3 linked regions of the Homo sapiens genome follow. The protein of the gene in region 2 interacts with the protein of the main gene of each other region in a pairwise test. Each region holds a gene or a part of one and is shown on either strand. Other genes may lie near its edges. The genes, in order: FKBP6, CCDC198 and PDE4DIP.

Region 1 (3,653 bases), on a different chromosome or scaffold from region 2:
GTCCCTGTTGCCCAGGCTGGAGTGCAGTGGCACGATCTCGGCTCACTGCAACCTCTGCCTCCCAGGTTCAAGCGATTCTCCTGCCTCAGCCTCCCAAGTAGCTGGGATTACAGGCACCTGCCACCACACCTGGCTAATTTTTGTATTTTTAGTAGAGACAGGGTGTCACCATGTTGGCCAGGCTGGTCTTGAACTTCTGACCTCAGATGATCCGCCCACCTCAGCCTCCCAAAGTGCTGGGATTACAGGCATGAGCCACCGCACCCGGACCCTCGTTCTTTTGTAAGGCTACTTTTCCGTTGGATGGCTCTGCTGCTTTTTGTCCATTCATCAGTTGGACATGTGGGTTGTTTCCACTTCGTGATTATTATGACTGATGCAGTGAGCGTTTATGTACAAGTTGTCGTGTGAACACGTTTTCAGTTTTCTTGGGTATGTGCCTAGGAGTGCAATTGCTGGATTGTGTGGGAACTGTCAAAATTTTTGAGGAACTGCCAAACTGCTTCCTACAGCAGCTGTACCATCTTACATTCCCACGAGTAATGTGCGAAGCTTCCAATTTCTCCACATCTTCACCAACACTTATTTTATATTTTTAAAGTTAGGCATCTTAGCGGATGTGAAGTGGTATCTCACTGTGGTTTTGATTTGCATTTCCCTGATGACTGATGACATTGGACATATTTTCATGCATTTAATGACTATTTGTCTATCTTCTTTGGAAAAATGTCTATTCGGAGTCTATGCATATCTGAAAGTTGGGTCATCTGTCTTTGTACTGAGGAGTAAATGTTGCTGCTGTGCTCTGGATACTACACCCTCAACAAACACAGGATGCGCAAATGCTCTATGCTGTTCTGTGGGCTGTCTGCACTTTCTTTGCAGTGTCCATTGAAACACAAAAGTTTTACATTTTGATGAAGTCTAATTCTTTGCTTATTTGTGCTTTTGGTGTTATATCTAAGAAACCATTTTCTAATCCAGGGTCACAAAAATTTACACCTATTTGTACTTCTAAAGTCTGATAGTTTTTTAAAAAAATATATGAAATGCTTTATGAATTTGCATGTCATCTTTGCACAGGGGCCATGCGATCTTCTCCCTGTCTTTCCAATTTTTAGTATATGTGCTGCCGAAGCCAGCGCAGAGTCTTAGAGTTTTAACTCCTACTTTTAGGGCTATGCTCCACTTTAGTTAATTTTTGCATCTAGTGCAAGGTAAACATTCTTTTGCATGTTGATAGTCTCTCGTCCCAGCATTATTTGTTGAAAAGACAGTTCTCTCCCATTGAATGGTCTGGACACCCTTATTGAAAATCAGTTGACTGTAGATATATAAATCTATTTCTGGACTCTGTGTTCAATTTCATTGATCTACATGTCTGTCCTTATGCCGGTGCTACACTGGCGTAATTACTGTAGCTTTAGGAAGTTTCGTGTTTTTTGTTTATTTTTTGTCTTTTAGTAAGTTTTGAAATGGGAAATATGAGTTCTCCAGCTTTGTCCTTTCTCAAGAGTATTTTGGCTATTCAGGGTCCTTTGAATTTCCATGTGACTCTTTTTTTTTTTTTTTTTTTGAGGTGGAGTCTTGCACTGTCACCTAGGCTGGAGTGCAGTGGTGTGGTCTCGGTTCACCACAACCTCCGCCTCCCATGTTCAAGTGATTCTCCTGCCTCAGCCTCCAATGTAGCTGGAATTACAGGCACCTGCCACCACACCCAGCTGATTTCGTATTTTTAGTAGAGATGGGGTTTCACCATGTTGGCCAGACGGGTCTCGAACTCCCGACCTCAGGTGATCTGCCCGCCTCAGCCTCCCAAAGTGCTGGGATTACAGGCATGAGCCACTGTGCCTGGCCACCATATGAATTATCTAATCAACTTGTCTGTGTCTACAAAAAAGGCTGTTGAAATTTTGGTAGGGTTGCATGAATATGTTGACCAGTTAGGAAAATATTACCATCTTAATATTGTCTTCCAATTAATGAACATGAGATATTTTTCCATTTTATTTGAATCATCTTTAATTTCTTTCAACAACCATTTTGTAGTTTTCAGTGTGCAAGTCTTTCAGTTGTTTTAAGTTTATTGCTACTTACTGTATTCTTTTTGATGCTATTGTAAATGGAGTTGTTTTCTTAATTTCATTTTTGGGTAGTTCGTTGCTAGAGCATAGAAATATACCTGACTTTTGGCCGGGCATGGTGGCTCACGCCTGTAATCCCAACACTTTGGGAGGCTGAGGCAGGTGGATCACGAGGTCAGGAGATCGAGACCATCCTGGCCAAAATGGTCATATTAAAATATGAAAAAATTAGCCGGGCATGGTGGTGCACACCTGTAGTCCCAGCTACTCAGAAGGCGGAGGTTGCAGTGAGCTGAGATCACTCCAGCCTGGCGACAGAACAAGACTCCGTCTGAAAAAAGAAGAAAAAAGAAATATACCTGACTTCTTATGTTGATCTTGTGTCTTGCAACCTGTAACAGCCGATTTTTAGCTCTGATAGTTTTTGCGTGTGGATTCTTTAGGGTTTTGTACATAAGACTGTTACTCCTCTTGACCATCTGCCTTCCCTCTCCACAGGCCCTATTGCTTCTGCGCCGGCGATCAGCACCCCCTGAAGAGCAGCACCTGGTGGAGGCCGCCAAGCTTCCTGTTCTCCTGAACCTGTCCTTTACATACCTGAAGCTAGACCGACCCACCATAGCCCTGTGCTATGGAGAGCAGGCTTTGATCATTGACCAAAAGAATGCCAAGGCCCTCTTCAGGTGTGGACAGGTGAGTTGGAAGCCAGTGACTTGGGAATAAACACCCAGGAAAAGGTAGTAGCAGTGCTCAACTCAGCTACTGCAAAAATGCTGTCTTTTTTTTTTTTTTTTTTTTTTTTAGACAGAGTTTTGCTCTTGTTGCCCAGGATGGAGTGCAGTGGCGCAAATTCGGCTCGCTGCAACCTCCGCTTCCTGGCTTCAAGCAATTTTCCTGCCTCAGCCTCTCAAGTAGCTGGGATTACAGGCATGCGCCATCACACCCAGCTAATTTTTGTAGTTTTAGTAGAGATAGGGTTTTGCCGTGTTGGCCAGGCTGGTCTGGAATCCCTGACCTCAGTTGATCCGCCCGCCTTGGCCTCCCAAAGTGCTGGGATTACAGGCATGAGCCACCGTGCCCAGCCAAATGATATCTTTTCTAACTGTGCTTTTAAAGTTCTCTCCTTGGGACAGGCTTGTCTTCTCCTGACTGAGTATCAAAAGGCCCGGGATTTTCTAGTTCGAGCCCAGAAGGAGCAACCCTTCAATCATGACATCAATAATGAGCTGAAGAAACTGGCTAGGTGAGCTGTGTTTGCAGGAGCATGAAGAGAGATGGGTGGGGTTGTGACTCTGGTCTGTCCCCCCACCCCCCCCAACAAAGGACAGTCTGGCGGTGTTGCCCAGAGTGTTAGGAGGCCGCCCCCTCTACAGCTGGGTTTCTGAAGTGCTCGGCCGTGCGCTGCACCAGCAGTTCCCAGCAAGCAGGTGAGACAGACTGCCAGACTATACATCTCCATCATCGCCCACCTTTCTGTTTCCCCTACCGCAAATAAACAACCCCTAGAGAGGTGGGAGGGTGTCACTTTTTTTTTTTTTTTTTGAGATGGAGTCCCTCTCTGTCACCTAG
Region 2 (3,653 bases):
GTTGCATCCCCATGTCTGGCATGTAGCAGTCATTAAGTAGTCACTGAAGGAACACATAAACTCTGTGGCCCTCCACGTTCCCCATTGCATGTCAATGTCAAGAGACCAGACTTTGTCTCCCAAACCTGCTTGATCACTTCTCAGTGATCAAGATCCGGCTGGAGGCAGACCGGTTGACATGAATTGCTGCCCAGTCTTAGTGACCCCCTGAAATGCCAACATGATCTCCCCTATCAAGCCAAGCCCCTGCTAGAAAAGGACATCTCTAAAATGTGTTAGCACACTGCAGTTTCATTTTAAATGTGTCTCATAATCACCAGTGATTACTACTAAGGAGCTTCTCTAGAGATCTTAAAAACAGATTGCTTCCCTAAGGGCTGGAATAGTTCAGCTGGGTACCTAAGGGATGTGTGAAATAAAATAAATTCCTAGCGCCTCTTTTATCTCTAATATTCTAAGATCCTGGTGGTTTGATAACTTTGGACATGGTCCCTTAATGCAGACAGAAGAGTATCTTAGTCTCCTAACTCTCTGACCAACACTTAGATCAATAAGGCACTGTCGACAGTGCACTAGAATAATAAAGAACCCAGATAGGTTGAAAAGCCCTTTGTACCAATATAACTGTAATGCTGTTAGAATCACCTTTCCTGTATGCTCTCAGAAATAAGTGCCGCTTTTGCAAAGTGTTAAGATAATTTAATGTCTGGCTTTTCTGTTTCATCATCTCATGGCATGAGGAATGCTGACTGCTCTAAACGTTGAACTTCTAGAAGCTTGAACCCATTGACTTGCCACGAGTAATTACTTCAGGAAGACTCCTGAGCCAGCGAGAAGCCAGGACAATGCACAAAGCAAAGGTGAGCTGCAGCAGTAACCTGACAGGGAGGTGAACTGGGGGTGGGCGACACAGGATTGGGGCACTGGAGCACACTGGTCCTTTCATGCACTCTCTGCATGGAGGAGTTCAAAGACAAATCAAACTGTTAAGTCATTCAGAGTGAGAACTTTTCAAAGCTATTTATTCTCTTCTGTGCATGCCTCCAACTGGCAGTGGCTATTACCTCTTGCATGAGCTCTGCACCCTTTTCTGCTTTGTGTTGAAAACCAGGGCAATGTAGATGAGAAAAGACTTTTACTTAGAAATTGGTGATTCTGAAGTTTTCAAATCTGTGAAAAATTCAGCATAAGTCCTCCCTTTCATTCCTCCCCTCAGTTTAAAACTTTTTATTCTCAGTTTGCAGGAGAAATCTTATCTACAAGTTATTCCTGACTTATTTGACACAACCTCACCAAAAATTAATCCTGGGAAATGTCTTCTGTGTATCTTTTCCCTGCTATGCACTTATAATGTTCTGTTGACTAGAACTCCCCTCACATAGAAATGAAAGCTTAGAGGTAGAAGCAGATTTTCAACACTTTCCACTCCTAATTTGTTTTGGAGCTTGCTAGGTGCTGCTGTGTGGCTGGCTGACTTGACAAAGATGTCCAGGTGCTGTCACATCCTCAAGCCCACGTTTGTGGTGCTGACAGCATCTGTGGAGATGGCCCCTCCCTGAGGTTCACATCAGCTGACAGTCACTATCCACACAGCAACACAAAAGGTATTGTCAAACACATCATCTTTCCTGGCAACAGCAAATGACAAATGAAGGTATATTGACCTCTGGCTGCCCTCAATAACCGTCTGCACTGTCCCACTGGAGTTTATGATGCACTGGCGGGGAGATGTTCAGAGTCACAAATAATCAACTTCAAATCCTCCCTAAACTGCAATATTCTCCAAGGCTTATGCTGGCATATGGAAATGCACTCTATAGAAATAGGTTCCATTTCACCATTCAGCAGCTTCCCTCTCATTTCATAGCCAGCCAATTACTCAATGGTAAAAGAGGCAGGGAGAAAAAGAAAGGTTTCCTCAAACCAGAACACAATTCTGGAGAGGTGGTAATAAGCATCTGTTTACAAAGGAAGTGATATCTTGCCAAAAATGAGATGTGGAAAGATATTCCCATTTAAGGTTTACAAAACTCTATAGCAACCTAAAAAACTACATATATACACATCAAAGAGCCACTTCATTCATTGATAGTGACACAAAGGACTTGTCAGGGACACACGATAGTCCACTTTTGTCATCACAAGATATCTCTACAGGTTATGACTGATTAAGATCTGACTCTGTTTCAAAAAGGATCTAAACTTGTGAATTGCAGAGTCAGTAACAAATTACCCCATACTAACAAGTGTGTTGTCTTTCATAGCAGGTACTAGAAAAGAAAATGCAAACTCCAATGTATACTTCTGAGAACAGACAATATTTGCATAAGATGCAAGTGCTGGAAATGATCCGTAAAAGACAAGAGGTAAATACGAGAAGAGTGTCATATTTACCAAATTTTCATCACATAATCACTGCCCTGCCACATGAATATATCAAGCATAGATAGCCAGTCTTTACTTAGCATTTTAAATTTCGTCATTGAGGTTGAAGGTTCAACTACTAAAGCTGAGAAGAATCAGGAAGATTCCTTCTGCTGATAACCTTGTTGAGTCTTTTCTAAGTTTGTATCTGTGTATCTGTGTCGCAAGTCTCCATTTTTAAAAACAGTTTGCTCCTATGACATTCTGGACATAGGAAAATGGGGCTAGATCATTTTTCTTGGTTTAGTGAAAGGAGGAGGGGGTGAGTTGTTCTTTATTCTGATACCTAGGCCTCTCTCTATAATTCTTGCCATAGAATTATCTAACAAGAAAGACCTCTTGTAAAAAAAACAACCAACCAACCAAACAAACAAAAAAACCCTTTACCAGTAATGCCTGTAACTGTCATGTTCCAAATTCCTCCCTCTAGGAAATGAGCCTTTAGTTACTGCTCTCTGGAACTCCAATCATATCAGCTAGCTGACAGAAACACACTTTTGTAAAGGTCCTCATCTTAATTGAGCCATACCTTTTTGAGACTGGGTGCACTCACCTTTCTCTTAACAAGCCTGTCAATAAATAAAGTTCCCATACCTTCTAATAGGAAAAAGAAAACCATGTTCTGGTTAGAGGACTGCAGATGTCTACAGATAAGCACACAACTTGCAAAGTGGCTGATCTGTTGATCTAGTCTGGTGAAAGTAGCTTGGGAAGAACATTGATCATTTATAGTTGATGATTTTCAGGCCCAAATGGAGTTAAAGAAAAGTCTTCATGGAGAGGCAAGAATTAATAAGCAAAGTCCAAGGGACCATAAAGCCAAGAAAACCCTTCAAAGCACCCCAAGGAATGATGACCATGACCTTCTAACCATGTTGCCTGATGAAATCTTGAACAGAGGTCCCGGTGAGTCATGTACAATTTTTTAGTAAAACATTTCAAGTGTTTTTAAAACTTCATCAAATAAACTACCAAGGGAGGGACATGATGAGAAGACAGCAAACAGCTTTGAGCTCTTGCTGAGATTTTTACTTCCCAGAATATAGTGGGCATGTTGTCATGTAATTTTGGATGGCTGGGAGGAAAAGACAGAAGCTTAAGCTTGGTAATTAAATGTCTCTTTCTTTGTATGGGTTTAATATGCTTTGCATGCTTCATTGCAAGTCTTGCCTCATCCCTAGAAGCAGAAAAGGCAAAATAGCCTCATCTTGTGGTTAGAGAGAATGAAG
Region 3 (3,653 bases), on a different chromosome or scaffold from region 2:
GGTGCTGCCACCAAGAAGCTGTGGAAGTTTGGGCAAGTCTCTTACTTTTCCTGAGCCTTGGCTTTCTTGTATATAAAATTAGGGGGCTGTGGTAGGTCTCAGGTTGCTTCATGCTCTGGGGTAAGTCTGAGTTAATTGCGGGCTGAGATGTTGGTAAGAGGTAGTATTAGGAACTGTTGTGAGGACCAGACCTAGCCCTCAATTAAGTGTGTTTCCTGCAGGAACACCATGCTGAGCCTTTGCCTTGAGAATGCGGAGCTGAAAGAGCAGATGGGAGAAGCAATGTCTGATGGATGGGAGATCGAGGAAGACAAGGAGAAGGGCGAGGTGATGGTTGAGACTGTGGTAACCAAAGAGGGTCTGAGTGAGAGTAGCCTTCAGGCTGAGTTCAGAAAGCTCCAGGGAAAACTGAAGAATGCCCACAATATCATCAACCTCCTCAAAGAACAACTTGTGCTGAGTAGCAAGGAAGGGAATAGTAAACTTACTCCAGAGCTCCTTGTGCATCTGACCAGCACCATTGAAAGAATAAACACAGAACTGGTTGGTTCCCCTGGGAAGCACCAACACCAAGAGGAGGGGAATGTGACTGTGAGGCCTTTCCCCAGACCCCAGAGCCTTGACCTTGGGGCTACCTTCACAGTGGATGCCCACCAAGTAAGTGTGGGCTTAGATTGAGTGAAAAACAATTGGAGAAGGGCTTGAGATGACAGTGTTTACCTTAAAACATTCTCCCATATGAATCAGGAGGTACCAAGAGAAGGGTCTCTTTGTACCACAAACAATAATAGTAATATTCTGCCTACATTCAGCCTTTAGAAAGGCTTTTATAACATAAATATTTCTTGAGTACTTAATTTTTCAGATAACACACTAGGCATTGGCATGGGGCAATAAAACCAATGGCTGCCCCTGAGATACTTAATATTGTCGGGAAAGATGGCACACAAACAGGTAATTTTAACAGGATGTGGTAACTGCTGTAACATAGGGATGCATCAGGTTATGAGGCAGCCCAGACAAGTGGTATGTAATGACATCCCTTATCACTGCCATTTTTTTGTCACAGCTCATCACAGGTGTCTGTTCCTGGGCTTCAGATGGGTTACTGGGATCCTCTTTAGGGAAGGAGCCATGCTGAAGATTCAGTGAAATGGAGAATACAGGGATTCTGAGAGAATCAATGGGACAGAATGTGAGGGGAGATGAGTGGTCTCTTTTTGACCACTGAGAAAACATTTCCTGAGAGCTCCTCTGTAGACTTGATTGGTGCTGTGCTGTGTGCTGTGGATACAGATATGAAGAAAACATTATCCCAGCGCTCCAGGAGCTCCATCTGGAAAGCAAGTCACTGCCAAATGGCATGAGAAGTGCTGTGACAGACTTGAGTAAAGTCCACAGGGTTCAGAAGGGGCGGTGGTCGTCACTGCATGGGGGTGACCTCAGACTGTCCTGATCCCTGTATTGGCCCCTTTCACAGTTGGATAACCAGTCCCAGCCTCGTGACCCTGGGCCTCAGTCAGCGTTTAGCCTACCAGGGTCCACCCAGCACCTGCGCTCCCAGCTGTCACAATGCAAACAACGCTATCAAGATCTCCAGGAGAAGCTGCTGCTATCAGAAGCCACTGTCTTTGCTCAGGCTAACGAGCTGGAGAAATACAGAGTTATGCTTAGTAAGTAACTATGACTTACTAGTAAAGAAAACTAGCCTATATGTCTTATAAGTTCTGTATGTTCTATACCGACATAACGTGGTTATTGAGCACACGAAGTGTGGCTAGTGCAACTTGGACATTTGGTTTTATTTAATTTTAGTTGATGTAGTATAAAGTGGCCATATGTGGCTGCTAACTACCTTATTGGACAGTACAGGTCTAGGGTCTTGGGACTCTAAATTAGTTCAGCTCCATTCAACATTTATTGAACCCCTGCGGATAAAGCACTTGCCAGCTTCAATGGGGCTGCTAGAGATGATAGTGTACAATCCCTGACTTACAGATATCTGGTCCCAACTAAAGCCTGGGTTATCTGAAGGGGAGATAATGGCAAATGCAGGCTCCTCCTTTGGAAAGAAATTCTGCTTCCTGGAGCTGGTGATCTCTTCTCCCACCAGTTCAGAGAAGCTTCTCTCCCACTGTGGATCTGCCTTCCGTGCCTCAAAAGGTTAGGGTATGTGCCATTGAGGCTGAGGGCATATGTGGGAAATTCAGACATTCTGTAACACCTGCTTCTCTTCCCAAGCAGGTGAATCCTTGGTGAAGCAGGACAGCAAGCAGATCCAGGTGGACCTCCAGGACCTGGGCTATGAGACTTGTGGCCGAAGCGAGAATGAGGCTGAACGGGAGGAAACCACCAGTCCTGGTAAGAGCACAGGGTGTGGGGCTCACCCCTCCCTGGAGTCAGCTGTCACATTTGGATGCTGTTGGCCAATTCCACACCTGACAAGTATTGGGGAAGAGGAGGACAGGAGGTTAATAGGAGAAATCTTACCCAAAATGAGGCTGAGTATAAGTTTGAATTTCTACAATTAGTTTTTGGCATACTGCTAATAACAATAATAATATAAAATTCTATCCAACTGATTATTATAGAAATACTAAGGCCTACTTAGAGACCAGATAAGGTTTTAGAAACATGCAAGCCATAAATTAAAAATAATTTTGTTTTGCATTATAAAAAGACTACAACTATAGGGCCACCCACCACATTGAAAACCAGAAGAGAAGAAAAACACAATCTCTCTCATTCTTGAGGCAGTGTAGTGTGGCAGTTAAGAGACAAGATCCTGGGGCCAGACTGGTTGGTTCAAATCCCAGTTTGAAAACTTTCCTATGTCCCAGTTTCTTCATGTGTTAAAATAGTAATAAAGGAACTACCTACCCCATCAGGTACTAAGGTCAATTAAATGAGTAAATTCTTATAAAATGCTTTAGAACAGTGCCTGGCATCTGGTAAAATGCCATGGATTAGTTCTCATTCTGACTACCACTGCCCTAATACACTGATGTTAACATGCTGATATATTTATTTGAAGCCTTATTTTCCTATGCCTATTTTTCATACAGTTGTAACCCAATAAACTTTTAAATTATAGTAAAATTTAAAGAGCATTAAACTTTCAGCATGCAGTAATAGCTTGTCCTACATTCTTGTGGCCATCCTAAATAGATAAGGCCATGTTAATGTCTTAAGAAACACCAGTGTGTGTGGAATGAACACAGGACATTGGAGGATTTGAATTCTGGCTCTGCCATGTGCTAGTTTGAGTGATCTAGAACAAGCTAGTTTACCACCTCTCTTTAAGTTTTGGTTTCCCAGTCAGTAAAATAGAAAGTGATGAAACCTAACTTGTAGGTATAAGGAAGATAAGAAATATTGTATTTGAATGCCTAGTACAGTGTCAGGGTTGAATAAAGTACTACTTCAACTTTTTCCCTAGTAATTATTGTCCTCATGACCAAACCTGCCTCCTCTCAAAGGCAGTGGCCACAACAGCACATCCAACTTTTATTTAGGAAGACATCTTTGTCTTTTTTCAGAGTGTGAGGAGCACAACAGCCTCAAGGAAATGGTCCTGATGGAGGGGCTGTGCTCTGAGCAGGGACGCCGGGGCTCAACACTGGCTAGTTCCTCTGAGAGGAAGCCCTTGGAGA

The links.
Region 1: the proteins of CCDC198 (region 2) and FKBP6 interact in a two-hybrid assay, tested with the Homo sapiens proteins (one large-scale study listed by BioGRID).
Region 3: the proteins of CCDC198 (region 2) and PDE4DIP interact in binary tests that used the Homo sapiens proteins (3 or more experiments, as listed by UniProt).

Annotation. Positions count from the first base shown.
Region 1 is NC_000007.14:73,338,056-73,341,708, forward strand, and holds part of FKBP6 (inactive peptidyl-prolyl cis-trans isomerase FKBP6), read left to right. Parts: intron 1-2,582; coding exon 2,583-2,777; intron 2,778-3,200; coding exon of another isoform or gene 3,201-3,217; coding exon 3,218-3,327; intron 3,328-3,653. UniProt on the Homo sapiens protein: Has an essential role in spermatogenesis. It is required to repress transposable elements and prevent their mobilization, which is essential for the germline integrity.
Region 2 is NC_000014.9:57,480,272-57,483,924, reverse strand, and holds part of CCDC198 (factor associated with metabolism and energy), read left to right. Parts: intron 1-740; exon of another isoform or gene 741-773; coding exon 774-860; intron 861-2,264; coding exon 2,265-2,366; intron 2,367-3,170; coding exon 3,171-3,330; intron 3,331-3,653. UniProt on the Homo sapiens protein: May be involved in tuning the metabolism, energy expenditure, and excretion processes.
Region 3 is NC_000001.11:149,001,370-149,005,022, forward strand, and holds part of PDE4DIP (myomegalin), read left to right. Parts: intron 1-221; coding exon 222-657; intron 658-1,480; coding exon 1,481-1,673; intron 1,674-2,241; coding exon 2,242-2,361; intron 2,362-3,539; coding exon 3,540-3,653. UniProt on the Homo sapiens protein: Functions as an anchor sequestering components of the cAMP-dependent pathway to Golgi and/or centrosomes.